Linked DNA regions of Homo sapiens: regions 2, 3, 4 and 5 are each reported to be linked to region 1. The links are microRNA targets in miRTarBase. Many come from high-throughput screens and were not tested one by one. Region 1 holds a microRNA gene; each other region holds the end of a gene's coding sequence.
What was found. The annotated mature microRNA hsa-miR-1306-5p reads CCACCUCCCCUGCAAACGUCCA and lies in region 1 at 1,145-1,166, shown strand. An mRNA with a match to its seed (bases 2 to 7 or 8) in the 3' UTR can be bound and repressed. Matches are read on the target gene's strand: a 7mer-m8 pairs with bases 2 to 8, a 7mer-A1 pairs with bases 2 to 7 and ends in A, and an 8mer does both.

Region 2: miRTarBase lists HLCS as a target of hsa-miR-1306-5p. Seed matches in the 3' UTR shown: 7mer-m8 at 3,721-3,727 and 8mer at 1,191-1,198.
Region 3: miRTarBase lists QRSL1 as a target of hsa-miR-1306-5p. Seed matches in the 3' UTR shown: 7mer-m8 at 3,931-3,937.
Region 4: miRTarBase lists SPATA21 as a target of hsa-miR-1306-5p. The part of its 3' UTR that is shown has no 7-base or 8-base seed match.
Region 5: the mRNA of NKX6-3 is a reported target of hsa-miR-1306-5p. The part of its 3' UTR that is shown has no 7-base or 8-base seed match.

Annotation. Positions count from the first base shown.
Region 1 is chr22:20,084,928-20,087,927 of GRCh38, forward strand. MIR1306 (microRNA 1306) reads left to right here and starts at 1,131; the gene lies at 1,131-1,215. DGCR8 (DGCR8 microprocessor complex subunit) reads left to right here. Exons shown (of 14, transcript NM_022720.7): 2 at 760-1,756; 3 at 2,235-2,394. The coding sequence starts at 1,037. It overlaps MIR3618 (microRNA 3618), which reads left to right and starts at 819; the gene lies at 819-906.
Region 2 is chr21:36,749,721-36,756,010 of GRCh38, forward strand. HLCS (holocarboxylase synthetase) reads right to left here. Exons shown (of 11, transcript NM_001352514.2): 11 at 1-4,697. The coding sequence ends at 4,526. SIM2 (SIM bHLH transcription factor 2) reads left to right here. Exons shown (of 11, transcript NM_005069.6): 11 at 1-197. Among named protein-coding and RNA genes, the nearest start is that of SIM2, 54 kb to the left of the region's middle. RefSeq lists enhancers at 1-490, 491-1,015.
Region 3 is chr6:106,663,885-106,670,174 of GRCh38, reverse strand. It overlaps QRSL1 (glutaminyl-tRNA amidotransferase subunit QRSL1), which reads right to left. Exons shown (of 11, transcript NM_018292.5): 11 at 1,758-4,393. The coding sequence ends at 4,173. Among named protein-coding and RNA genes, the nearest start is that of LINC02526, 28 kb to the left of the region's middle.
Region 4 is chr1:16,394,596-16,400,885 of GRCh38, forward strand. It overlaps SPATA21 (spermatogenesis associated 21), which reads right to left. Exons shown (of 13, transcript NM_198546.1): 11 at 6,125-6,290; 12 at 4,749-4,926; 13 at 4,048-4,227. The coding sequence ends at 4,170. It overlaps SZRD1 (SUZ RNA binding domain containing 1), which reads left to right. Exons shown (of 4, transcript NM_001114600.3): 4 at 443-3,550. The coding sequence ends at 545. Among named protein-coding and RNA genes, the nearest start is that of SZRD1, 30 kb to the left of the region's middle.
Region 5 is chr8:41,641,653-41,647,942 of GRCh38, forward strand. NKX6-3 (NK6 homeobox 3) reads right to left here. Exons shown (of 3, transcript NM_001364841.2): 3 at 3,525-5,042. The coding sequence ends at 4,797. Among named protein-coding and RNA genes, the nearest start is that of NKX6-3, 6.0 kb to the right of the region's middle. RefSeq lists an enhancer at 3,534-3,593 and a silencer at 4,908-5,137.

The DNA of each region.
Region 1 (3,000 bases):
AGTGGCTCCTTATTGTCCCCAGGGCGGAACGGGCTGCAGGTGGCACCCAGGCCTCTCTGTGCCTCGGCTCCAGCTGTCTCTTGTGGCTCCCCACCCCAAATCCTGGCAGGTCCCTTCCCCACAGCCACCCACCCCTCTCCTCCATCGGGAACAGAACTATGCTGCCACCTCTGGTGACCTCAGCACGCTGCATCACTGTCCCCGTCCACGTGCTACCCTGTGGGCCCAGGAGAGCCCTGGGGTCCCTGGGTAGCAGAGCGCCTGGCCATGCCTCTGAGGCCCCTAGTGCCGCAGAGTTGAGCTGAGGGTCTCGCGCTCGCCCTCTGACTGACCCAGCCCTTGCAGGTGAGTGGATTGCTGTGCTCTGGTGGCCTGAGGGAGGCCACGCGCCTTCTGTGTGTTCCAGAAAGGGTGCCTCCCACTGCATGCTTGCTTATCTGAGTTAGAAGAATGCTGTGGTGGAGTTTAGTGTAAATTTTTAAAATATTTTTTGAGCCTTATGATTATATAGTTTTTGTGTTTCTGAAGTAGGAATTAAAGTGGGCATTAACAAAATATTTAACTTTGGACTTAAGTTATAATTCAGGTTCTGAAGAATAAAAGTAAGGTTAGTTTGTTTTGATGCCTAAAAAGTCCTCTTAGGGAATATTATTTTGAAGCCCTTTACTATGCTGTTAATAGTGCTTGGCTTTTAACTTGGTACCAGGGAATTGGAAGGTTTCTGTCATTTTGTGACGATATTTTTAAATTTCTTTGCAGGTAGAAGAAGAAAGGTGCCACTCCGGCATGAAGACAGACTCGCTTAGTCGCCAGTCACTTAAGCTGAGTGCATTGTGATTTCCAATAATTGAGGCAGTGGTTCTAAAAGCTGTCTACATTAATGAAAAGAGCAATGTGGCCAGCTTGACTAAGCCGCCAGCGCACAGCGCGGCAGGACGCGCCCGGGTCTCAGCGGACTTGTGCATGTTAGCTGTGTAGATTTATGTGAGGGCTTGTAAAACTCTGGTCTTGTAAACTAGTCTTAAGCGCTTTTAATATGGAGACAGATGAGAGCCCCTCTCCGCTCCCGTGTGGGCCCGCAGGAGAAGCGGTGATGGAGAGCCGAGCTCGCCCCTTCCAAGCGCTGCCCCGTGAGCAGTCTCCACCACCTCCCCTGCAAACGTCCAGTGGTGCAGAGGTAATGGACGTTGGCTCTGGTGGTGATGGACAGTCCGAACTCCCTGCTGAGGACCCCTTCAACTTCTACGGAGCTTCTCTTCTCTCCAAAGGATCCTTCTCTAAGGGCCGCCTCCTCATAGACCCGAACTGTAGTGGCCACAGCCCGCGCACCGCCCGGCACGCACCTGCGGTCCGGAAGTTCTCCCCTGACCTTAAGTTGCTTAAGGATGTAAAGATTAGCGTGAGCTTTACCGAGAGCTGCAGGAGTAAGGACAGGAAGGTGCTGTACACAGGAGCAGAGCGCGACGTGCGGGCGGAGTGCGGTCTGCTCCTTAGCCCTGTCAGTGGGGACGTGCATGCTTGTCCCTTTGGCGGGAGTGTTGGTGACGGGGTAGGCATAGGGGGTGAGAGTGCTGATAAGAAGGATGAGGAGAATGAGCTGGATCAGGAAAAGAGAGTGGAGTATGCAGTGCTCGATGAGTTAGAAGATTTTACTGACAATTTGGAGCTAGATGAAGAAGGAGCAGGCGGGTTCACGGCTAAAGCAATCGTTCAGAGAGACAGAGTGGATGAAGAGGCCTTGAATTTCCCCTACGAGGTATGTTGGCAGCCCCTCCTCTAGAGGGCTCTTAGCAAAACCCAAAGAGAGATTTGGGAATTGCAGCATCTTTTGAAAGCAGGGAAATTAAAAAAAAAAAAAACAAAAACCAAAATCCCCTCTGAGGTGGAATAATGTTAATGTGGAGAAGAGAAAGATGTAAGGAGTCCAGATTTTTAAAGTTTCCTAATGAAAAGTTTGGCCCATGGGTAGGCCCTGCATCCCTGATCTAGCGCGTGGGGCAGCAGGTGCTGCTGAGTTACGCTCCTTGGCAGTGTGTGCCCCTGGACCAGGTGTGTTGGTGTCAGCTGGTAGCTTCATCCTGTTTGTTTTTCAGATGATCATGCACCCTAAGGGCACATCTAGGCCCCCTGAGAGCACCTCCTTTCTGTGTCTGTTCTCAGGAATGCTGTTGAGCTCTCCTGTTGCAGGAGCATGAGCGCCAGGGGCTCTGGTGTCTGAACAGCGTGTTTTGCAGGATGACTTTGACAACGATGTGGATGCTCTGCTGGAAGAAGGCCTTTGTGCCCCCAAAAAGAGGCGAACAGAGGAAAAATATGGCGGAGACAGCGACCATCCGTCCGATGGAGAGACAAGTGTGCAGCCGATGATGACCAAGATTAAAACAGTGCTCAAAAGTACGTGTGTGGGTCAGAAGCAGTGGGTGTTCCAGGGCAGTGGAGGGGTGGTTGCTTCCTTAGCAGAAATGCTTTGAGAGAGCTCTGGTGCCAGGTAGTGGGCTGGGTGGAGGCATGTTTGAGGACAGGACAGAAATATCTGAGGAGGGAAACACAGGATGGGAGGACGTCCTGATGCATGACCCAGATGCGGATCCTGGTGTGTGCTATGGAAACCACAGAGCAGCAGGCACTGTGCAGAGGAATGGGAGGGGACTTCTGAGGGGGTCAGGAGGGGATGTTGGTATATGCCAGGAGCCAGCATGACCATCAGCTGGAGGGTGTGGAGACCAAGGGCAAGGTGGGTACACAGTGAGATGGCAGGTGATAGTTGTGATCCAGGTTCTAGTCCTGGACCAAGTGTCACAGGAAGCCACCAGAAGCAAGTGGTGTTACCTGATTTTTGTTTAACAACATGGCTTCTGGGCCACAGCATGGTGTGTGCACTTCAGCTGGGCAGGGTGGAAGTGCCCTGGTCGACGTGGCACTTCCTCAACTTTGAGTTGAGGGTAGTGGGGAGAGCACTTGAGAGGCGCCCAGAGTTGCACTGTGAGGCTCTGTCATCGA
Region 2 (6,290 bases), not on the chromosome of region 1:
GTGATTCTTGAAAGGTGTAGGTTTGATTACTAGGAGATACCACCGACATTTTTCAATAAAGTACTGCAAAATGCTTTTGTGTCTACCTTGTTATTAACTTTTGGGGCTGTATTTAGTAAAAATAAATCAAGGCTATCGGAGCAGTTCAATAACAAAGGTTACTGTTGAGAAAAAAGACCCTATCATAGATTTACAAGTGACAACGTGGACAGGCGTAACAGAGTGTGTATGTACTTGAAAATGTGTACTAGTGAAAACGTCCTTGTCTAAACAAACTTCGTTTTCATAACCTAGAACATGAAGGAAGATTCTTACACGAGCTGGCTTCAGGACGGCCAGGGCTGAGTGTGAAGTCAGCAGAGCTGTTACTGTGGCAACCTAATATTGTGACCTCCATCTTGAAGAGTCTGCACATTTAAGCTGGGGATAGCGTTTCTTGACTTCTGTGAGGCTCCGGCAGGGGAAGAGGAAGCATTTTAATACATATGCCTCTCTTTTACAAAAAAGAAAAAAAAATCATCGTAGGCCCTAACATGTACCATGTTGACAAAAATGCCAGATCAAATGGATTTGAGAAATAAGCCCAATTCAAGGCTGGCTCAGCCCTCCACGGGGCCTCCCAGGGAAAGGAATTCCTTTATGTTCTTGGAAGCCCTTTTCTAGAAAAGCCATTCCATTCATACCTTTGTAGAGCAGTGGGCTGGGTGTGGAGGGCAGCGCGGAGGGTATCTGCAAGAGCCTGTATTTTCCGCCTCCCTTGCCCCCACTCCTTTTATCCTTTTAAAAGTCCTATCAGCCCTGCCTTCGTCCCTTCCGCCCTAAGCCCTAAGAGTGGGGGAGGTTTAATACGGCCAATGGATCTTGTATAAAGTCTACGTAAGTTTTAATTTACCAGAGCTATAAGATGGTTAAGGTAGACTAGTGGGGACTGCTACAGATAAAATGAGATACAAAGAACATTTGCAAATAAATGCCATAAAATTACAGTAGCTTGGAATTTTAGTGAATCATGGCCCTTGTGTTATCTAGAATGCTAATTATTCAAGCTGTTCCTAAACTTAAGTATGACATATAAGATTAAAATCTTGGGGGGAAAAACTGTTCAGATGAAAAGTCAAGTCAAGAAGTTTCCACAAAAGAAAAGAAAAATCCTAAAAACAATCTAGCTGTTGTTACATTAAATTTATTTCTCACCTCCATTAAAAGGGTTTTTGCTTTGGAGTTTTGTTAACTTTCGTTCTTTGGAGTAATAATATTTCTCTTGTGTATGGCGCTGAATACATTTGTCAATAATACGTCAAAAAAAAAAACACTTGGCTTCTTAATACTTGGAAATACGTACATATTCCTTACTATGTAAAACACTTTATTTATTTTGTAAAAATGTTTAAATATGAATAAAAATACTGTAACCCAAAGTAGTTGCCTACTTTTAAAAATGAAACTTGTAAAAATAAGAGGGAGCCCAAACCACATAGAAAGTCTTAGTTTATTTTGGTAGACTTGCTTTTTATAGGCATTGGTTTAAAGTGATTCTTTTCAGAGACATCCTTTGAGAAGTTAAAATTGCAGAGGCTTACGCTTTCTTTTATTTCAAATATGCATAGTGATTAACCAGGAATAAGGATTCTCCCATGTTCTGCCTGTTAAGAGCAAACAGATCTGGAGAACGGAAGCCCACCCTGCCTCCCTTTTCCATCTGAAGCAGTGCGGGGAGGCTGGCTCCTCTCTTTGTTCCCAGACTCCAGGGCAAGGGGCGACCATGCTGTATATGCTGTGCCTTGGGGGACCCCCAGAGGCTGCGCTCTGTGGCCTGTGCTCCCCCGACCTGTGCACCCGCACCCCAGTCGGCCACTTGCTCTCACATCAGGCAACGTCAGCCTGCTGCAGTGAAACTCAACCACGATTTTCCTTTGCACACAAATCCTTCCTACTTCCACCACTCCCTAGCAGAGTTCCCAGTGCCAGAGAGCACTGCTGGGGTGGGGGTGGGGACAGGAAGCCCAGTTATTGCTGTGTTCTATTTTAGGGGGCACTTCCTCAAGAGTCCCCTTGAAACCCGTTACCAGCCTGGAAGGGAGGATATCTTGCCTTTTACAAAATACGGTCGATACTCAATGCACAGCCTCTAAAACAAGGGCTACTCCAGTGTTCTAAAAGCACACGCCAATCCTGAGTTTAGTGACCACATTTTAAAGATCATCAGGAAAATGCCAAGTTCCCATTAAGACTTTAAAGCTCCTTGAGATCCCAGGTTGCGGGGTGCATAAATGGCCCAAATCGGAGAGTGTGCTATAGCAGGTAGACAGGTTTCGCTAACACGAACAGCTATCAGTAAAATGCCTTTATTCAGCTAATTCTATAGAAGCGGAGTTTTGAGAGTCTTTGGTTCATGTGAGGCAAAATCAGGTTTATGGAAAACGCAGCATCTGCTTCAAGGCTGCTTCATCTCTCTCAGGACAACTGAGTCTCCTGCGTGAGGGAGGAGCGCCTGCTGGAAAGCACAGAGCACAGCAGTATGCCCGGAACATCTCCATAGCCTTTGACAAGGCCACACTTCATTAGTTTTAATTTGCAGAAAGGAAATTAAATGATAACATTTTTTCCCAAAGCAGAGTGTCCAGAATAGGACTTCAGCTTAAAACAAAACATAGCATGTTTTTCATTAAATAACCCCCAAAGAAATTCAAAAAGTGATGATGGCAGCTCTGAGAGAGGGCTTGCCTTATATTACAAAGTCTGAGAAATGAAACCTACATCGTTAGCCTCGAGATCTTTGTCCCTGATGATATTCTGCAGATGCCCTCTCAAGGGTAAGTCCATTTTGTAATTTGGGGATGGTGTGGACTTGTATTTTACTTAAGTTTCTAACTAATTTTGAAAGAAGGCTTGGGCATTTGGAGAAGAGTGGTTTTTTTTGTGTTTTTTGTTTGTTTGTTTTTTGAGAAAAATAATTCTAATTGAAGCCTCATTTCCAAAAATTACTTTTTAAGTTCTTTTAATGTTTCATTTCCAAAAAATATATATTGGGTATTTTTTCATAGGGCTGTCCTGTGCCTGGCTAAAGGTAGACAGACTATACTAAAAACCACAAGTTTCTGGAATTAGCCTGACTGGGTAAGACCTGGATAAAGATGGTGCTAGTTTACAATGAAGGGATTTTGTTCAAAGCTGAAAGCTCCATCAAACTTTCTTTCCACTAATTTCAGCTGGGACTGGAAGAGAGAAAACTGGACAAAAATTGGCCTTTTAAAAAGCTGAAAAGTAATGAGTATGATTCATAAGTTCAACAGAGATAGGAGGGACATGGAAAAGGCATGGCGTACATCTGGGAATAGCGAATGCATATCAAAAGGCTTCATTTCTTTTGTTCTTTCATGAGGCTTGTAGCACATCAAATTTTGAATGTCTTCTTTTAAAGCTATGTGCGCACACACGCACGCACACACATATGCGGGCACACACACACATCCTCCCTCTGAACTGATGGTGTTTAGTATCGATAACATTTTCTTTCTTGGTAATACGAGGTAAATGAGGGGGGCAAAAACTTATGACTTCTGAGTAAAATGCCATGTCTTCTATATTCCGTGAGCTGCACAGTCTTGCAGGAATGCTCCACATTTCAGAGTAAATCTGAAACTGGCTTAAAAGCTCCAAATCCTCCCTTGTATGTGGTATGAGTGTGCCTTCATCTCCAGCTGTCAGAGCCAAATCGCCCACCTCCTCATCCAAGTGATGCCTAATCAGACATTTAAGGATTCTGAACTTGATCCTGTCTCTTCACAATATGTAGTAAATTTAAACTTACTTAAGAAAGTCAGTCCCTAACTAAGGACATTTAAACTTCCTTAGGAAAGGAGAGCTCACTGAATGATGTCAAAGTAATGAACTGATTTCCTCTACAAGGTCACTGCAACCACACCAGCTAGCTCTATCTCTACAGGCATTTAGACTTCGCTATGGGGCCACACCACCGGGTGGACAGTAACTCTTGGAAGTCTGTCTTCCCTTTTCTTCATTAATAAAAACACAGAACAATGACTAAGTGTCCAAGCATGTTCTTACAGTTCAGTACCTCCCCAGATGCTTACAAACAGTGATAGCATACCTCTAACTCACCACTGGCCTGGGCGCAAGAGCATATTTTGGTTTGTTTTTTCATAGACTAGGGGTAAAGGTCTGCACTACTAAGAAAATATCTGAATTTTCCCATTGTCATTTCCATGTAAAAACTCCCCTTGACAATAAACGTAAGTCCAAGCCACAGAGGGGAGAGCAATTTCCCACCTGTGGGAGGGCTTTCCCTAAACTAAATTTTCTACTTCTTAACCATCTATCCCAGAGCCTCTTCAAACACCAAAGAAAACGACAACAAAACAAACCTAAAAACAAACAGAAACACAGAAAAAGAACAAAGACTTAACAAATGAATTGGAGGAAAAGAAAATTCACCTACAACTCTAAATTAGATTTCCAGATGCATGGGCACGGACAGGCAGCCGCGTCTCGGGGACGCCCGGCATTACCGCCGTTTGGGGAGGATGAGGTTTCTCAGCATGTCGAAGGAGTTGCCGTCCGGGTGCACAGTCACAACCTCGCCGCCCTCCTGGTGAACCTGGAGGAAGCCAGAATCGTCCAGGCCAACGATGGACACCTTTGGTCCCTCTGCGCTGCCCAGATGGACTTGCTGACCACTGAAAAGGAAGAACAGCGTGCGGTCACTGGGAGGTGTCACAGGACGACTTAAGACAATGAGCTGAAGAATAATCCATGATGAGAGAGCTGGGCGTGCTGGGGAGAGGGCTGAGGCTCGCTGCAGGGAAAAGGCAGCCTGGGCTGAGCTCTGACTTTCTTCCACCCTGGTGAATGGTTTTAAGAACTGCTCAAATAACCAGCAGGATGCAAGTTCAACAAGGAGTCGAAATTTCTTCACACAACGTCACTCCTCCTAATTCTGGTCATCTGCGGTGATGGCTGGAACCACTTCCTCACCTCCCAGCGCTTTTAAGAAACACTGTGCAACTCTAGGTTTTTTGGCTGAGATTGGAGGAAAATAGGCCGAGTTGGCAAACAATGTTTTATCTTATAAAACAAAGTTGGCTCATATCAGCCACAAGTGAAACTCATCCTGATCCTACTTCTTTTGAATATTTTCCAAATGTACTCAAGTCACGTCCTTCTTAACAGCTTTCGAAGTATAGAATTTTCTCAAGTTTTTATTTTGAAGAATTTTAAATCTAAAGAAAAGCTGAAAGAATAGTGCAACAAACCTCATATTCTCTTCCATTCTCACACCAAATGAAAATATTTTCTGTATTTGCTTTCTTTCTTCACACATAAACACACACAAGCACACATTTTTTTTTCCTGCAACATATAAAGATAAGTTGCAGCTGGGTGTGGTAGCTCATGTTTGTAACCTTAGCACTTTGGGAGGCCAAGGTGGGAGGATTGCTTGAGGCCAGGAGTTCAAGACCAGCCTGGGCAATATAGTGAGACCCTGCCTCTACAAAAAAATTTTTTTTTAAATTAGCGGGCCGTGTGGCACACTCCTATTGTCTCAGCTACTTGGGAGGCTGAGGCAGGAGGATCATTTGAGCCCGGGAGTTCAAGGTTTCAGTAGTGAGCTATGATGGCACCACTGCACTCCAGTGACAGAGCAAGACCCTCTCTAAAAAAAAAAAAAGTGAAAATAAAAAAAGTTTTTTAAAAGCTGCAGGCATTGTGACACTTTCTGCTTAAATACTTTATCTCCTGAGAACAAGAACCTCCCATAAAATTATAATAGCATTAACTATGACCACTCAAGAAAGTCTGGATACAAACGGTCCATGTTCACGTCATTCCCACTGTCCTTTTAATATCCTTTGTGGCTATTTCCCTCCATCCAGGATCACACACATTACATTTAGATGTCATGCCTCTTTCGTCTTCTCTAATCCCAAACAATTCTGCCACCTTCTTTTGGTCTAATTGTTTGTGCGCAGACCTGACATTTTTGCAGGGCACAGGCCTGTTGTTGTGGAATCAGTGAGCGGTCCTCGGACTTCAGCTGCATGAGAATCCCTGGAGTATCTGTTATGACACAGGGTGCTGGGCCCAGCCCAGGGGTTTCTGATGCAGTAGCCCCTGGTTGAGGCTGAGGCTGCTTCCTGGGATCTCACTTTGAGAACCACTGTTACCTGGAAGGTTTGACAATTTAGATGCGTCTATTGTTTCCTCACAATTAGAATCAGATTAAACCAATGTTAAACTCTCTCACTATTTCGGTTCTTCCCATCGCATCC
Region 3 (6,290 bases), not on the chromosome of region 1:
AATTCAGGGTTGTCTGATTTTTAAATCTGGTGGCCTTACCCCACTAGGAAAGCTAATTTCCCACCATATCATATACTACCCAATATTAAGCATCTATATAGATACCCTGACAAGCATTTTTTGTTTTTAATCTATTTCTGGTTTTATTCTTCTTCCTCACTTTTATTATCACTTCATGGATTTCCTCAACTATTTACTTTTATACAATTGTAATAATATATTTTTAATAAACTGCCTAAAATATTTTTGGGTTTATATTCTATTGAGGTACAAAGAAAAATAAATAAAAAAGCTCCTCCGAAATCCTGTAGTAATTACTTTTACTTAATGTTGCCTTTGGTTTTTTTTTCGTGTTATTTGCCTTTATTAAATTTTCAGGTTTATGTTCTAGTGTACACATTGCTTAAGTTATTAAATAACTGAGGAAAGCCTTCTATTTTAAACTTCCTCTGGGTCCTTCTAAACACAACGGATATGTCTTTTCCTAGGCTTGTGCCTTGGTACAGATAACCAGATGTTTGAAGAAAGGGAGGGGGACTGGGCACGGTGGCTCACTCCTGTCATCCCAGCACTTCGAGAGGCCAAGGTGGGCAGATGGCTTGCGCCCAGGAGTTCAGGACCAGCCTGGGCAACATGGCAGGACCCTGACTCTACAAAAAATTAAAAAAATTAGCTGGGCCTGGTGGTGCCACACTTGGGAGACTGAGGTGGGAGGATTGCCTGGACCCAGGAGGTCAAGGCTGCAGTGAGCAGGACTGTGCCACTGTACTCCAGCCAGGGTGAGGGCAAGACCCTGTCTCAAAAAAAAAAAAAAAAAAAAATAATAATAATAAAAGGGAGGGGGATTAAAAGTAGTTAATGAATGAAAATTTATAATAAGAGATATTTTTAAAGTTCCATTATTTTACTCCCCTGCTTTTTATTTATTATTTATTTTTTAATTTTTTGAGATGGAGTCTCACTCTGTCGCCCAGGCTGGAGTGCAGTGGTGCACTCTCGGCTCACTGCAAGCTCTGCCTCCCAGGTTCATGCCATTATCCTGCCTCAACCTCCTGAGTAGCTGAGACTACAGGCGCCTGCCACCGCGCCTGGCTAATTTTTTGTATTTTTAGTAGAGATGGGGTTTCACCATGTTAGCCAGGATGGTCTCGATTTCCTGACCTCGTGATCCGCCCGCCTCGGCCTCCGTAAGTGCTGGGATTACAGGCGTGAGCCACCGCGCCTGGCCTACTCCCCTGCTTTGAATCAAATAAGGTATGGCACACGGCTTGCTGAATCCCGAGGTCTACTTATTAGTACCTGCTTATTTCTTTTCACTATCCTTCAGATTCTGTTTAAAATCCTAAAGTTACTTATTTACATTAGGAGGTGCAGCTATTTCCTAATAGGAATAAGCACTTTTTTTTGTCATTTTGCAAGCTCCTCTTCTATACCATGCCATCTTTAATTTTAAACAGCCCAGTCTGATGTCATCACAGAGGACCCGGTGTCAGCCACTCAAAGGGAACATTCTGCCTCCTGGGTTTCAGGTGCTTTTTTTGGTAACGCTAAGTGTGGGCCAGCGTGGAACAGTGGTTTTCCCGCTTGCTCCTTTGGCTCTCTGTGGTGGCAGAGCACCATGTTTTATGATCACATCATTTTTTCACTCTGACACGTGTTCAAACTTTTGCTTTGGTTTGGGTCTTTCAGGTGTTATCAAGGAACTCATCTTACACGTGTAGACATCTTCACCTTTCAAAAACACTCTGTTCTGGAAGTTCTGTTGCTAATAATTTTAGAGTTTAATTAGCTGAGACAAAGAAAGTATTTGCCACTTAAATTCCCAGACAGTGACTTGGCAAAATGAGACCTACTAGATTAAGAGTAAAAATGAAGAGAAAAGAAAAACAAATTAGGTATCATTTCATGGTAGTTGGGTATCAGTATATGAGAACGGTAAATGTTTCACTTTTTAATTTCCAGATTCAAATTATTAGTGCAGCTCATGTAGAGATACAGGAACAAGAGATTTAATATTATTTGAAATAATATTGAATACTGAATAATATCATTGAATATATAATATTGAATATTATTATTTCGGCCAGGTGTGGTGGCTCACGTCTTTAATCTCAGCACTTTGGGAGGCTGAGGGAGGCAGATCACTTGAGCCCAGGAGTTTGAGACTAGCCTGGGCAACACAGGGAGAGCCCATCTCTCTCTCTCTCTCTTTTTTTTTAAATTCATTACATAAAAACAGATTGGGGCAACGGTTTGTTTATTTACTTGCTTTTGACATCATATTTGCTCCTTCAACTAAAATGGTTTCCTCCATCTAGGATGTTGTGGTGTCTGAGCAATTAAAAAACTTAAAACGGTTTCCTCTTGCTATAAAGTAATGCAATTTTCTCTCATGGATTTCTTCCTCTTTCAGGGATTCAGAGTCAAAATCTATAGGAATATTACTAAGCCTGGCACATAAGACTTTTATGTGAAGTTAATCAGGTTGAGTATTTGGGAGCGGGAGGATCTCAGAGAGGACAGAAAACTGTTTATGAAAACTAACAGGTGACGATGAAACATTCCAGTGGTTCTGCAGATGATTCTGACTCATTATTTTCTCTTCATGAACGTCATATTTAGAAAACAATTTTTTTTTACTAAACAAAGTGAATTTATTAAGTAACAATTCAGCTTTCATTTATCAACAATATGTAAGTGCTAGATTAAAATACCTGATCAATATGAGATGACAATGGTGTTCTAGTGAAGACACAGAAATCCAGTGATGAAGCCTTATCATGAGTAAATGGATGGTTTCCATTAGATTTTGTCAAATATTGAATACAGATATCCATTAATATCTCTGGGCTCGAGGGTCCCAAATAAAAAACACTCGTAAAGACAGTCAAGAGGAAAAGGAAACCATGAGATATAGAGAATCTGGGGTAAGGCAAGTTCTTGCCATGCGCATCCCCTCTTCTGCTTCATCAGCAAATTATCTGCATGTTTTTCAGAGTGTATGTTACTTGTGTATTTTGAACCTTTTTCACTAATACCATGCTCTGCTATCTACCAAGTTTCCAATCTGTGATGGTCTGTTAGGTTACAATAAATGTTTCGATGACATTAATGAGCTCATTTGTGATCAGTAAATAGGAGCATGAACTCAGTGTAACATGGAGTTGTTCTGGCTTCTAGGCATGGGCTCCGGAATAGCAGAAGTAAAATTGTAACTCTAAGGAGGAAAGGAAAGTTCTCAGTCATTTCAGCTCTTTCTTAGGGAAATAAAAGGAGTCCCTGCAAGTGGAGCTCCTCCCCAGAGAGGCATACCCCTGAGATTTGCATGATTCTGGGCCCTGACTGGTTGCATTTCCTCCTGTGCTCAAAGTTCCTCTTCCACCTGCTCTGCTCAGCGCTCAGAAGCCAATAATCGCACTCAATTGTTTCTGTGCATTTTTAACAACCCCTGAGGCGGCCTTCACCACATGATAAGTTGCCTGCCTAGGCTATCCAAGTTACCTCTAGAAGGACTATTCATGTTTTTGTTAGTGCTTTAGTTACACAGATGTACAATTTTTGAGAAGTTTATCCCTAATCTTATTTTTACTGTAAACTCTTTAATGAACATTATGGCAGAATGCATTGTCTTTGAGGAACAGGTATCTTGTGTTATTGTAGAAGTATTGTACACTTAGTGGATGCTTACTAAATGCTGACACGTTATTTATTATTAATTGTCACAGGAATTTTAAAAAGTAATTCCATGGAATGACTGTATTAACAAGAACCTAATTACAAGAATTGAGCAAGACCATTTGACTCTCTAGAATATAGAATCTCTGTACGTCATTTTATTTTATTTTATTTATTTATTTTGAGACACAGTCTTGCTTTGTCACCCAGGCTGGAGTGCAGTGCAGTGGCATGATCTCGGCTCACTGCAACCTCCACCTCCAGGGTTCAAGTGATTCTCCTGCCTCAGCCTCCTGAGTAGCTGGGACTACAGATGCCCGCCACTAAGCCTGGCTAATTTTTGTATTTTTAGTAGAGACGGGGTTTCACCATGTTGACCAGGCTGTTCTAGATCTTCTGACCTCATGATCCGCTCGCCTTGGCCTCCCAAAGTGCTGGGATTACAGGTGTGAGCCACTGCACCCAGCCTAAAAGTCATTTTAATTTGTAAGATATGTTTACTGTTTTAGAGAGACAGAGGCTAACTTTTCATTTTCAAGGACTGCTGAACAATCATCCATGAGTTCTTGAAGTTGAATAACAGGAAACTGTACTTGTTTTTCAAACCATTTGGCTACTGTAAGAAGCTGCTGGTCACAAAACGCACGTCCAATAAACTGCAGTCCTATTGGCAACCCTTGGTTTGAGAGTGCAACAGGGATACTCACTGCTGGCAATCCTGGGAAAAGAAGGAAACCCAGTAGGTGATTAATTCTCCACCCTAATTAGCAGAGACCTCTTCCACTTTCCAGTGCTAATAAGTACAATACAGGATAAGGTTTAAAAAACAACCAAAAATATTATGCTATATAATGCTTTTGTACTATGTTTTGTTTACTTAACAATATATCTTGGAAATCATTCTGTATCAGTTCACAGAAACCTTCTTCATTCATTTCTTATTGCTGTATAGTACTCCATTACTTGGTTTTACCATAATTGAGTAAACCAGTCTTCTGTGGTTGGGTATTTAGATTGTTTTCAATATTTAGCTATTTTATACAATGCCCCAGAGAATTACTTTGTGTATGTATTTTTTTGGTATTCTTGAAATCTTCTTAGATGAGGAGGAGATTGCTTCATCAAACGACAAATGCATATGTAATTAGATATTGCAAAATTCCCCTGCAAAGAAGTTGTACCATTTTGAACTTCCACCTATAGCCTTGCAGACAGAGTGTGTTGTTCAGTTTTTGAATTTTTGGCAATCCATTAGATGAGAAATTAGCTCAGGGTAGTTTTAATTCCAGGTTTGGGCAGAGAAAGTACAAAATCCCAGACCATCTTGTTATACAATAAAACAAGTTTTCAAAAATTAAAATGGGGACAGTTTTAAAGGATACATATAACTTGAAGGGGCTCTTATTGGCCAAATTTAAGGCAATTTGACCATCAAAAACAATACTGACAGTAATTGCTTATAATACATTGAATTAAAGAAAAAAAGGAAGGCTCTTCTTTAGAGAATACTGCTAGCTAATAAATGTAGAAGGAATGACAGATTTAGTAAAGCCAGAATTTTGTAATTCTCTAGCTAATATTTCAAGGATGATCAATGAATGCTAAAACTGGGTTCAAGATAATTGGAAAATAGGATATTCACATGGTCTCAAAATATTACTCCAGAAATTGCTTAAAAAAATGATAAAAGGAAAAATGTACCTTTTTATAAGGAAACATCTAGCAGTTACTTCCTTAGCGAAGTGATCAACTTGGTTTCCAAAAGTGAGACAAACTGATATTAACTGTTTCCTGACATGAAGATTATGTAGTACTTCTACCAAAAATGTTTAACTCAACCCAATCATGAGGAAGCAATCTGACAAATCCTGATTATGGATGGGACATCTTACAGCACAAGTGGACTGGGCTCTTAACATTTTTTAAGTGCTAAAGATAAGAACTGTTGAACCAGAGTTCTACATCCAGCAAAAATAACCTTTAAAAATCAAAGGGAAATCAACACATTCTCAAAAGGAAAGCTATGATAATTTTTCATCAGCAGACCTACCCTAAAAGAAAGGCTAAAGAAATTTCTCTAAACAGAAGTGACAAAATAAAGAATCTTGGTACTTCAGGAAGGAAGAATGAACACAGTAAGCAAAAGTATAGGTAAATGTAATAGACTTTCCTTTTCCTCTTAAGTTTTCTACATTATGTTTGATGATTGAAACAAAAATTATAGCATAGCCTGATGTGGTTTTAAAGAAAAAAGAGAGGTGGGGTGATTGTTCTAGATTTTAAAAAGATACCATAAACCAATGTAATATATCAGGAGGAAAGACAACTTATAAAAGACACTTTTGGTAGAACTGAGAAAATTTGAATATAAACCATATTTAAATTATTCTTCAATCATGTTAGTTTTCTTAGGTATGACAATGGAATTGTGGTTCTGTAGGAAAATTTATCCTTATAAGATTTGTACAAAAGAATTTAGGGGTGAAGTGTCATGACATCTGAAACTTTCAAATGATTCAGGTAAAAACAAAGTTGTTTGTGTGGTGAGTGTGGGTGTGTAGAAAGAGGAAGAGAAGGGCAAAGCAAATATAATGTTAACAAGATTACATCCAGGT
Region 4 (6,290 bases), not on the chromosome of region 1:
GAGTCAGCTTCCCAAAGAAGCAGGCTTGCGGAGCCAGAGTGACGTGGGCCCAGCTATATGGACAGTTGATTTTAAGATGGGGGACATCTAGGCCAGGTGCAGTAATCCCAGTACTTTGAGAGGCCGAGGTGGACGGATCACTTGAGGTCAGGAGTTCAAGACCAGCCTGGCCGACATGGTGAAACCCCATCTCTACTAAAATTACAAAAATTAGCTGGGTGTGGTAGCATATGCCTGTAGTCCCAGCTACTCGGTAGGCTGAGGTAGGAGGATCACTTGAACTCAGGAGGTGGGGGTTGCAGTGAGCGGAGATCGTGCCACTGCACTCCAATCTAGGTGACAGAATGAGACTCCGTCTCAAAAATAAATAAAAAATAAAGAAATGATGGGGGACATCTATTATATCCTTCTTCAGGCCTTCCTCTGCTTTTCTTCCTTTCAGGCCAACCAGGATCTCCCAACCCGAAGACAGCAGGCAGCCCAATAATGTGATCAGACAGCCTTTGGGTCCTGATGGGTCTCAAGGCTTCAAACAGCGCAGATAAATGCAGGCAAGAAAAGATGCCGCCGTTGCTGCCGTCACCGCCTCCTGGGTCGTCCGCCACGGGTTGCACTGCCGTGGCAGACAGCTGGACTTGAGCAGAGGGAACGACCTGACTTACTTGCACTGTGATCCCCCTTGCTCCGCCCACTGTGACCTTGAACCCCATGCACTGTGACCTCCCCCCTTCTCCCCCTTCCCACTGTGATTGGCACATCGACAAGGGCTGTCCCAAGTCAATGGAAAGGGAAAGGGTGGGGGTTAGGGGAAGGTTGGGGGGACCCAGCAAGGACTCAGAGAGTCAGACAGTGCCACTTGGCCACTTGGGGTAAAGCCAGTGCCAGCAATAACAGTTTATCATGCTCATTAATTTGGGATTTCAAAACACAAATGAAAACTCACACCCACCCACCCCCAAGTGCATGTCTCCATCACTTAAAAAGTAAGTTCCATTTGAAAATATCCTTTCTTTTTTTTTTCTTCCTATTTTTGTTTGTTTATACAAATATCTGATTTGCAAGAAAAAGTGCATGGGAGGGGTTTTAGTGGTTTAATGAATTTTTAATTAAGAAAGGGTAGTTTGGTAGTCTACTTAAAAATGTTTCTGGGAAATTCACTAGAAACATTAACCAATAGGATTTTGGTGAGCTTAGCTTCTGTATTCCTACTGCCGCCCAGAAAAGGGGCAGGGCTCTGCAGCCGCCAGGACAGACGAGCACCCCATGCCTATACCTCCCTCCCCGAGCTAAGTCCCAGGGCATCTGGGCCTTGCCTGGAGACTGGGCTAGCTCTGTAGGCTCGGAGAGCCTGGGGAGGGTGCCAACCCCACCTCTAGTATTTTGGGAGATAGGGAAAGTGAACCGACTTCCCCTTCCCATACCCCTCAGGGTGGTTCCCTACCAGCCAGGCTTACTACTTCTAGAAGAAAGCAGAGTGCCAGGGAGTGAGATTGCATCCCTGGGCTTAGAAGTGACGGAGAGAAGACTTGTTTAGTATTTTGCCATCAGCACAAGGAAAACCAGGAGAGAGTCTGCCTCCAGGACTCTGAGCCTTCTGCCTCGTATGTTCAGAAGGTGGATAGGTCTTCCCACTCCAGCATGGCTTGAACTCTTAGGGGTCTGCAGTGCTCCATCTCCATTGGTGGCCCCAGCTCAGTAACTATACCTGGTACATTTCCTGTGTGCAATCAGTACCTTGAAGGCAGAACATTCTGAATAAAGTTGGAAAAAGAACAGCTTTGCTTTGCAAAGATTGATGACAGACTGGTTCCTCAGAGGCCTAGGCTACCCGTCACCCCTTTTTCCAGAGCGAGGGCCTGGAATGAAGGCAGTTTATCCTCTGTCCCTGGAGCCTGGGGTTTGCTTTGGCTCCTTGAGGTGGAAGAGACTAAGAGGGCAGCTGCCCAGAGCAGCTGTGTGTACCTGGCTCCTCTCAGGCTTCCTGATCCCTTCCGTTGCACTGCGCCTTATCCCTCAGCCAGCCAGACAGCCTCCCTGCTCCTGACCAGCAGATACGTTTCGGAGTGGTTGGTGTGGTTTTTGTGATGAGGGCAGCACGTGGTGGCCAAGGTGGCAAGCTGAGTCTCACAGGCTCACTCCCTCGTTGGTTCCCTGTGGGAATGGTAGGCCAGGCCCAGTAAGCCATGCCCCAACACGTCCTCTCCTCCGGAGGAAGGGCCAGCTGCCAGCTGAGTCAGCAGCTAGTCCATAGCACAGCCTTATAACTGTAAAGCCAGGCATTGCCCATGAGCAGAGCTGGAACCAGAGCTTCAGTCAGTAAGAGGGAGGATTACCTTCAGGAGAAGGCAAGGAAGAAAACTGGCTGCTATCTTTATAGTTCCACTGCCCTAACCAAGTGTCCACATTCTAAATGTGTAGTGTCCATCCCTTATGTAATAGTGGTTTCCCGCCCAAAGTGAGACTTTCCTTTTAATTGGAGAAGGGTATAGAGGTAGTCCAGGTGGGAACGCCAGAAGTGCTGATTGCCCAGCCATTGGGACCACCTGTTCTTGCCCCACTACCCTCTAGTGGGAGGCCAAAGTAAAGGCTGGCTGGTGGGTGTCTGTGGATTGAGGATGTGGCAGGGACTGGTCCTCCCACCTCCCTCTGGCCAAAGATGGGCTTTGCCCGCTGTGTGCCTGTCACCACCCACCAGCAGTCATGCCCTGGGCTTCCCAAATGGAGAGGTAGCAGGCAACGTTTTTAAAAAGAAAGAAAACAGGAAACTGTATTGTGTCGGGGGAGGCGGGAGGGAGATGAGGAAACGGTTTGGATTTTGTGTGTGGGAGGGTATTTTTTGGGGGTAGTTGTCTGTAACTTTCCTAAGTGCTTTTTTTCCTTTTCTTTTTTAAAGTAAGTTGCAGGCTTTGGCTTGGAAAACCCCAGGGGGATGGGGGGCAGAAACCTGAGGCTGCTGCCCCTTTATCTGCCTTCACGGTACTGTCCCCTTCCCCCAGCTCCTCCCTGACCCCATGGGCCAGGCCTCAGACCTTCCAGCTAACCGCTTCCCATGAGCCACTACTCTGATGTCAGCCTATAACCAAAGGAGCTGGGGGGTCCAGGCCTGGTGACCAACCTTTCTCAGCCCACTCAATCAGGGTGCTCCCCACCTGCAGGCAGGAGGCAACACCCTATCTGCTACCATCAGCCCCTTCCAGAGCCCATCTGCCCCGCCCAGCCCTGCCCTGCCCAGCCATACCCTGCTCTGCCCCATCTGGGGGTGCCCTGCTCAGGGATGGGCTGGCAGGGCTGTACCCAGCCTCCCTGGTAAGCAGAGACTCAAGAAACCTCTGGGGTCCTGTTTTCTGGTCGTGTGATCCCAGGGGTGCACATGGGCCCCTTGGGTGTCTGAACAGAAGGGCATGGGAGGGAGGGCTGCACCCCTGCAGTCTTACTCTGCTGGTGTAGCGGGCAGCTGCCCACTCCCACCCCACCCTGCACCGCGGGCTCCTGAGTCGGCAGATTAAGCATTTTATAAATTGTATTTTAAATACATGTTTTAAACTTGTCAGATCTTTGTCCTCATTTCAGTCCCTGCCCTCTACCTCTTGCTGTGGCCGCTTATTTAACCCTGGGGGATTTCCCTCTGCCCAGTCCCAGGGAAAGACTGTCTTTGGTAAAACACGAGGCCGGGTGGTATGTGGGTTGAGGGGAAAGGACCCACCCCTCTTGGGGCTCCCAGAGAATGAGAGCCCTGGGTCCTGGGGCTCTGTCGGGGGAGCATGCAGAGGCCACCTCCTGCTCTTCCACAGGGCCTGTCTTAGAGCCAGTGGAGAGAGAGAATGGCTGCTTTTGTGGGGCTCCCAGTCCAGAGGGGGATGTGCTCACCTGAGGAGAGGCCTAGCCCTGTGCTTTGAGAAGGCACAGAAGGTCAAGACTGCACGCAGGGGCACCTGTAGCAGAAATCCCAACCCCGCGCAGGGCTTTGAGGTGGAACCCTGCACTCTGAGAGCCCAGTGGTGGCTGGGTGACAACTTGAGGGCCTTTCTTGGCAAGAGGCACAGAGGCTGAAGTTATTGGTGTTTATTAGCTCACCAGGCCACAAAAGCAAATCCCAGCAGCAGCTCCTGCCTGGTGGCCCATCTGTCTACAGGCCTTGAGCAGCTGCCTAGAGTCAGGCCTCCAGAGGGTCAGTGGGTTCGAGCTGGCACAGAGCTGAGCCACTTTCTGCTGTCAGAGTTGTGTTCCCTGGGGAGAGGAGTAGGGCAGAAGGGTGGGAGACATGTGGCCCTTTCCCTATCTGCCAGTATATGAGCCATCTGTGCGTGCCCAAGTGAGGAGAGAGAGGAGGCCTCCCCTCAGAAATGGTGGAACCAGCAGTTGTGCTTAGGGGCCTGATTCCAAGTCCAGAGCTCCCTTCCCCAGCGGCCTGGAGGGGGACTGCTGCAGGAGACGTTCCCCTCTGCCCAGGTGCACAGTCTGCTAGTCCTAATATGGAACCATAGGGAACTCAGAGTACTCAGTTAGGTGCCACTGAGTCCTGGACACAGGAAAGCAGAAGCACTCTGGCTTCAGTGGAACAATCTGCTGGGTACACAGGCCCTCAACAAAGGTTTGTCTTCTTCGCCTTTTACCCTTTCTCCTCCCTGGAGCAAGCAGCCTCTCAGGTATGATCTCTTAGAAAGATGGATTCCCAGGCATTAGGCCAGGGGCCTCTTAAGGAAGAATCTGGAAGGGCCTGGGCTGGGACCCTTTCTCTGGGCACCCACCTGTTTCCTTGAGATCCTGACTGGAAGAAGGGGCTGCGGATGTCAGGATCCAGGCCAGGGGGTGTGCACTGGTCTAGTGCATAGTGGTTGCTCGGCTGCCTACGGACCATCTTCTTGTCCAGCTGTGGGCAGAGCAGGATGCAGGGCACCTGGGCATAGGGGCTCTGCAGGTTGGGAGCTGGTGAAGAAGGAGGCAGAAGGAGGAATGCTTCACAGCATGCCCAGCCTTGGGAAGCAGGCAGATTCAAGTGAAATCCTGGCGTTGCTACATAATGACCTGAGTGGTTTGGGGCAAGTCACTTAACCTCTCTAAGCTTCTGAGCTGGAGGTGATAGTGGTACCCACCTCACAAAAGTTGATGATGAGGATTAAAGGAGAAATATATGCAAAGCACTCAGCTCAGTGCTGCACACAGAATAAGAGCTGGTAACAGCTTAACAAGGAGCAGAGGACTTTGTGATGGGTGTTGGCAAAGTCTAGTAGGCATGCTCTAGAAAGACTGCAAAGCTCCTATCCTGTTACTTGGCACATAGTAGGAGTCTAATAAATGGTACCTGGGGGAAGGGAGGCAGGCTTGCCCAGTGGAAAGAGCATAGATTTTGGGGTCAGACCTGGATATAAACTCCCCTTTCCAAAACACTAGTTAGGGGCATTGGGCAAATTGCTGAACTTTATCAGTTTCATTTTTGTTTTTTTTTTTGAGACAGAGTTTTGCTCTTGTCCCCCAGGCTGGAGTGCAATGGCGTGATCTCGGCTCACTGCAACCTCCATCTCCCGGGTTCAAGCGATTCTCCAGCCTCAGCCTCCAGAGTAGCTGGGATTACCGGTGCTCGCCACCACACCTGGCTAATTTTTTAGAGATGGGGTTTCACCATGTTGGCCAGGATGGTCTCGAACTTCTGACCTCAGGTGATCCGCCCACCTCGGCCTCCCAAAGTGCTGGGATTACAGATGTGAGCCACTGTGCCTGGGTCAGTTTCATTTTTCTAATCTGTAAAATGGGGTAAATACATGATTATGAGTATTAAATTCTAGAGCATCTGCAAAGGGCCTAGCACAGTGGGCACTCAATAAACAGTGAGCTGGGATTGCTAATCTCTACAGCTGTTCTTTCTCAGTCCTGGCTCATGGGACCAACCTGTGCTCAGGCTAAGGCAGGAGGGGAGGAGTCCAACGCAGGAGGCCATTGTCATAGGCCTGGATGGAAAATAGTGATTATCAGCCTGTTTTCTGATGTACACAGTTAAGCCCGAAGTGGGAAACTGGCCTCTCAGCTCCCTTGGCCTGGCTGCCTGAGGGTCCAAGGAAAGGAGACCAGATGGGCAAGAGAGCAAAGCCCCAACCCTAGCCCATCCCACCCTGCCCAGGGCCCTCACCATAGTTCTGCTGCTTCAGCCGGCTCAGGATACTGAGGACCTTTCGTTCTGGAACTTCTGAGCTCTCTTCTTGCTGGGGGTTGTAGGGAAGCTTCTGCAACCGCAGCCGGCCTACGGCCGCTTCCATCTCCTGGGCCTTGCAGGTGCCTTCCTTCAGCTTTTTCTG
Region 5 (6,290 bases), not on the chromosome of region 1:
TTCATTTTACAGATGAGAACAGTGGAGTTGAAGAGCTTAACTAACCAGTCCTGGCAGCCCAGCTACTACTTTGTGACGTGGGGATTCAAACTCAGGACTGCCAGCCTTCGTCTTAGTCCATCTGTGGCACTTTAACAAAATATCTGAGACTGGGTAATTTATAAATGATAGACATTTATTGCTCACAGTTCTGGAGGTTGGGAAGTCCAAAATCAAGGCGCTGGCAGGTTCAGTGTCTGGCAAGAGCCTGGTCTCTGCTTCCAAGTTGGTGACTTGAATGCTGTGTCTTCACATGGTGGAAGGGATGGAAGAGCAAAAAGGGCCAAACTCACTCCCTCAAGCCCTTTTATAAGGGCATGAATCTGATCCATGAGGATGAAGCCCTGATGGCCTTATCACCTCACAAAGGCCCTACCTCTCAATACTGTCACCGTGGGAGTTAAGTTTTGACATGTAAATTTTGGAGGGGACACTGACACTCACATCAAAGCCTTCTCTGAATAATACAGGGCTACTGTTTACTGTCTGTGTATGCCAGGCACATGCATTAGTTCTAATCTCACAGAAACCCTGCAAGGTGTGTGGAATTATTCCTATTTTATAGATGAGTAAACCGAGGCTCAGAGGTTAAGTAACTGGCCCAATGATACAGAGAGTGGTGGAGCTATGGTTTGAGCCCATATCTAACTGACTCCTTTCCCCTAACCCATGCTGCGGGGACAGCTGGTTTCTGGGGTCAAAACCTAGGGGTGGCCCGAGGATGAGGAGGGGTTACCAGAAGTGGGACTTCAGCCCTTTGTCACCTTTCTTTTGCCCAGGCTGGAGTGCAGTGGAGTCATCTCGGCTCACTGCAACCTCCGCCTCCTGGGTTCAAGTGATTCTTCTACCTCAGCCTCCCCAGTAGCTGGGATTACAGGCACCTGCCATCACGCCCAGCTAATTTTTGTATTTTTAGTAGAGACGAGGTTTCACCATGTTGCCCAGGCTAGGCTCCAACTCCTGATCTCAGCTGATCCGCCCACTTTGGCCCCCCAAAGTGCTGGGATTATAGGCATGAGCCACTACACCCGGCCTCTTTGTCTACTTTCTGATTGTTACCATCAGGATATGGCCACTGTGAGCCTGGTAAGGCATGGACATCCACCCACCCTCGCCCCGACCTGCTGAAGACATATCCCAGGTCCTGCTAATAGCAGAAGCCACAAAGGTGACAGCTATGGCAGAATCCGTCCCTACTTGGTGGAGCCCATGGAGCCACCTGTCAGAGCAGACACCACAGCTGTCATGGACGTGGGACTTAATTTCTTTCCTTTTGTCTCTGAAAAGTTTGTGATGTGGTAAGAGAGGAGCTGCAGGGAGCATGCATTTCCAAAGTTCTTTTGCTTTTTGTATGTTTGTTCATTTAACCCAGAATATACAATAAGTTCTATTTATGAGCAGGGATAAAAGTGGGGCCTATAGTTTATGATTTTTTTTTCTTTTTCTTTCTTTCTTTCTTTCTTTCTTTCTTTCTTTTTTTTTTTTTTTTTTTTTTGAGACAGTCTCACTCTGTCACCCAGGCTGGAGTGCAGTGGCATGATCTCAGCTCACTGCAACCTCCACCTCCCGGGTTCAAGCAATTCTCCCACCTCAACCTCCTGAGTATCTGGGACTACAAGCCCTCACCACCACGCCCAGCTAATTTTTGTACTTTTAGTAGAGACAGGGTTTCACCATTTCTCACCATGTTGGCCAGGCTGGTCTCGAACTCCTGGCCTCAAGTGATCCACCCACTTCGGCCTCCCAAAGTGCTGGGATTACAGGTGTGAGCCACCACGCCTGGCTGGCTTATGATTTCTTTATGATGGATGAAGTGAGATAGCCTTGTGTTCTCCCAAGTAACACACACATGTATGCACACACAGGCATGCACATGCATTCACATGTGTGTGCATCTGCAGAGGGCCAGACTTATCTTGAATGACCCTTGGGAATCTGGGTCTTCCACATATGAGTTTTCTCCTCCTTTGAACTCCAAATCTAGTCTTTTGAATATGCTTCAGCATGATTGTTAGGGAAATGGGGGGCAGTGCCTCTCCTGTGCTTGGCCCTATGTTCAGTCTGCACATGGAAGGTGGTGTGGGATTAGAGGAAATGGCCCAGAAGGCTGTAGTCTTTTAGCTAAAGGTTCCAGTGGCAGGTATCCCAGAACTTTGAGGTCAAAGGAGGTTTTGTTTAGCTCAGCAAATATCTCCTGGGAAAAACTTTCCCCAGGCTTGATTTCATACTGACCTCAAATGACTTGAATCAGACATGCAGGAATTATAGCTACAACAGAGCAGTTAAGATTACAGCATGCTTCAGAAAAAGATAAGTAAACACAGTTTTTATGTCACTTGCATCTTCCTCCATACCTGCTTGGTGACTTTGCACCTGGGCTATGTGATAGCCTTTTCCTGCCTGCAGCACTCAGGAATCACAAGCCTCCCAGAACCACAGAAACTTTTTATCTTTGAAGTCTGTGCTGAATTCTAGGGTCCTCTCCTGCTGCAGCCACTGTAGGACCCATTCAGGACACTTGTGACAGAGCACGGCTTCTCAGTGTGCACACAGAGATTGTGCTCCATTCCCTTCTTTTCTCCTTTCTGCTTTTCAAGGGAAAAGACTGACACCTGAGCATAGGCATCTTCACAGATGGAGGGTGGAAATTTATACACATTCTGCATTTTCTGGTCATGTTCCTCTCTGTCCTCTGGGTCCTCTAAGGGTCTTAGGAAAGGTGGGTGCCCTACTTTCTGAGATGCTCCTAGCTAGGGTCTTCCTCCACCCTCATCCCCTCTCGGGCTGGTTCCAGGGCCAGGTTCACCCATCCTGGGGGTCTGGGGGTCCAAGGATGGACTTCTTGGGAGAGCAAAGGGGTCAAGCCTAGTTGCTAGTTGCACAGATTGTTGAAGTTGGAAGGGCCTTAAACTACTTTTGGTTCTAGCCTCTCATTTGACAGAAAAGGCTTCGAAGGGTGCCCTTCACAACCCAAGGAAGTGGCTGAAAGGGCCTTGGGATCTACTCTGAGGTTGCCTCGTCCCACTTCTGTGACTTGGTTTAGGAACTTTCTGAGCTTTGGTTTTCTCCTCCATGCATTGAAGATGATACCTACTGCCTAGTTTTCTTGTGGGGTCAGTGATAATCCAGACATTCTACAGGGGAGAAATTAGCAGGTGTTCTGTTAAACTTAGCTCTTCTAGTCTCTCCCTTCTTATTTTTCTTATGATACCCAATTCTCCACATAGATCATCTTCCCCACTAGGCTATAAATTCCTGGAGATCAGGGACCCCATAAAATTCACCTTGGGTTTCTCAGCACCTGGGGACAGTGTCTGGCATCTACCAGTGAGGTTTCAAATAACTTGTATTGTGCAACCTGTCAGAGCACGAATGTCCCCAGGAGACTAGACAACGGCCCTCGGGGAAGGCCCCACAGCTGGCAAGTCTGGGACCTCACAGCCAGTTTCCTGCCGTTGGTCCCTTTCACAGAAGCACAGGAGCCGTAAGGTTCATGGGACTTTTATTTTTACTGTTTATTTTTTGAAAGCCAGTGAGGATGGGCAAGTGCTTGGTCCCTTCTGGGCTGCATTCCTATCTAAGACCAGCCCTCACCCGCCTCCCCCAGCCCACCCCCTACCTGCCAGCAGCTCAGATCACCCGGGTGAAAAATACCACCCTGTTGGCCAGCGTCCCTGTCAGCACCAGCTCCAGTGCCAGGCCGCAAGGCGATCTGAGGAAAGGAAGGGCCGTGATTCCCAGCAGGCCGTGGTTCAGCCCCTTCCTGGCATCCTCCACCCAGCCGGAGGGGCTGTCCTTCTCCCTTCCTGCCTTGTTGGAGGGGTGCCGTTCTGGGGTCTTTCCCAGCCCTTCCTTTCCTCCCCAGGTGGGATGCTTTTTCTCTCTGGGTGGGCCTGTCCTTATATCAGCACCAAATGATGCCCAGGTGGGTGGCCCTTGGGCACACCGTCCCCGCCTCCCCTCTCCCTGCACCCTCCCCTTTTCCCCGGCTGTCAGGATGAGGAGGGCACAGCGGTCTCAGAGGTATTGACCCTGAGGGTAAATCGGAGAAAGGAGGCCAGGGGGATTTCCGCAGCTCAGGGGCCGTCATCCTGCAGTGTCAGGGGCATTTTTTCTCCACTGGGATGTCCCACTTCCCCTCCTGGAGGCAGATTTCCTGCAGCCTGGGTTAGGTGCTCAGCTCTGGCCCCTCCAGTGGGACCCTTCCTGTGCACAGGTCTGAGGAGTGCACCTGGCCACTCACCTGTCTTTTCTTCTGCAGCCAGCAGCTGGCTTGGGGCCCAAGACTCTGGACTTCTGACTCCCCAGCCAGCTGCCTCCCTCCCTGGGAAGTCCTGCCCACTCCCCCCGCCCCAACAGCTGGATCACAGTGGCATGTCTGGGACCCCACAGCCAGTTTCTTGGCTGCAGAGCCTGGTCATTTTAGTCCTCTGTCCACTTGTGAATCTGCAGAACTGGCAGGCGAGGCCCGAGGAGGTGCAAGGGGCAGCGGCTTCCAGGTCTCAGGAGTGCTGTGCCTCCCTCCTGGCCTCCTCCTCCCTTAGCTAGGATGCCTGTCCCCTTTCCCTCCTTTTCCTCCTCCTCCCCCGCCTCCCCTCCTCCTCCCCTGCACCTGCTGCTCCTCCTCCACGCGCCCCTCATCCAAAGAAAGACTCAGTCCCTGCGCCCCCAGGAGCGTGGGGAAGGGGAGGGGAAGGTAGGCTCCTCGGCGTCCCCCCGCAGGCTGCAGCCAGGATCCCGGGCCTGGACGGCGGGCGTCAGACGCTGTGCGCTCCCAGGCTGAGCACCGAGAAGGCGGCGCGGTGCTTGCGCAGCAGCAGGCGGATCTTCTCGTCGTCCGAGTCGGGGTCCAGCGGCTTGTTGTACTCGTCGTCCTCGTTCTCCGAGGGTGCGCGGTCCCCGCCTGCGCCTGCACCCGCGCCGCCCGGGGCCCGGGGCGTGGAGGACGAGGGCTCCAGGGCGCTCTTCTTCCGCCACTTGGTCCTGCGGTTCTGGAACCACACCTGCGATGAGAAAGAATGTGAAGGGCACAGGGGCACAGCGCGCACGGGACGCGAGAACAGCCATCCTGCTTTTACAGCTAAACAAATGGCTCAACAACGGAGTGACTGTCACATTCACGTTTCTGTTGGGGAAGGACAATAAAATTTAAAAACGTGAGCGCGGCAGCCCTCCCCTCCGCCCCCCGCCCCCACCATTTGCTTCCTCTTCCACCGCCGCCTCCTCCCCCTCTCCCTCCCCCTCCCCCTCCCCTCCCCCTCCCCCTCCCCCTCCTCCTCCTTCTCCTCCTCCTCCTCCTCCTCCACCTGGGAACTCGGTGGAAGATGCGGAGTGCGCGGGTGGAAGGCTTAGCCCCGGTGCTCATTGGAAGGTGCTTATGAGCAGTCCCTACTCTGGGCTTCATAGACCCTCACCCTACTTCATAAATAATTGTTCCCCTAGTTAGTTAGAAAAGTAACGTAGGTCCATTGCTTGGGATAGTTGAAGAGGGCAGGAACGCACCCCAGAAGCAGAAAGACATGCAGGAGTGTCTGCTTCTTCCCCCCAGCTCTCGCCCCAGGGCAGCTGAGCGGCTGATGAGGAGGGCGCAGCGGGTTGGAGCTCGGGGAGGCCCCAGGGCCCTGAGCAAAGCCTAGACCCAGGTGCCAGCTGCCCCTGCTGCATCCTTAGGCCCGTCGCCGAGTCACTGAGCCAGCATCAAAGTGGGGAAAGTTGCCCCCAGACTCTAAGGCGGTAGAAACCGGTTTCCCCGGGTCTATTTAGGGGGCATTTGGGGCCCCTGCGTGTGGAGTGGGAGAGCCTGGGCTCACCCTCCCTAGCCCTGGCGTGGGCGACAAGGCTCCAGGCCCCTGAAGCCCATCTGATCCTGCTTAGTAGAAGGAGACGTTGTCTTCATCTTAAGGATTGGTAAACTGAGGTCAGCTCCTTTTGCTGACTGGAGCATCAAGCATGAATCTGGGCCAGAGACTGCCGACCGTGCTTGGAATTTTTGGCCAAATACGGGGGGAGAGGGAAAGCCTCAGGTTGGAGTCCCCCACATCTGGGGTTGAACCCCAGCTCTGCCAGCTCTCCCAGCTCTCCCAGCCGGGAGACACTGATCTTCATCTGCGAAATGGGTGATGATACCGACCCCCCGGGTTGCTGAGAGGATGAAATGAGGTGCCGCACATAAGGCTCTGAGAATGGGGCTCAGCCTTTCCCGGCTATGGTTAATTACCACAGGCTCCAGGGTTAGGCAGGCAGGCAGTGCC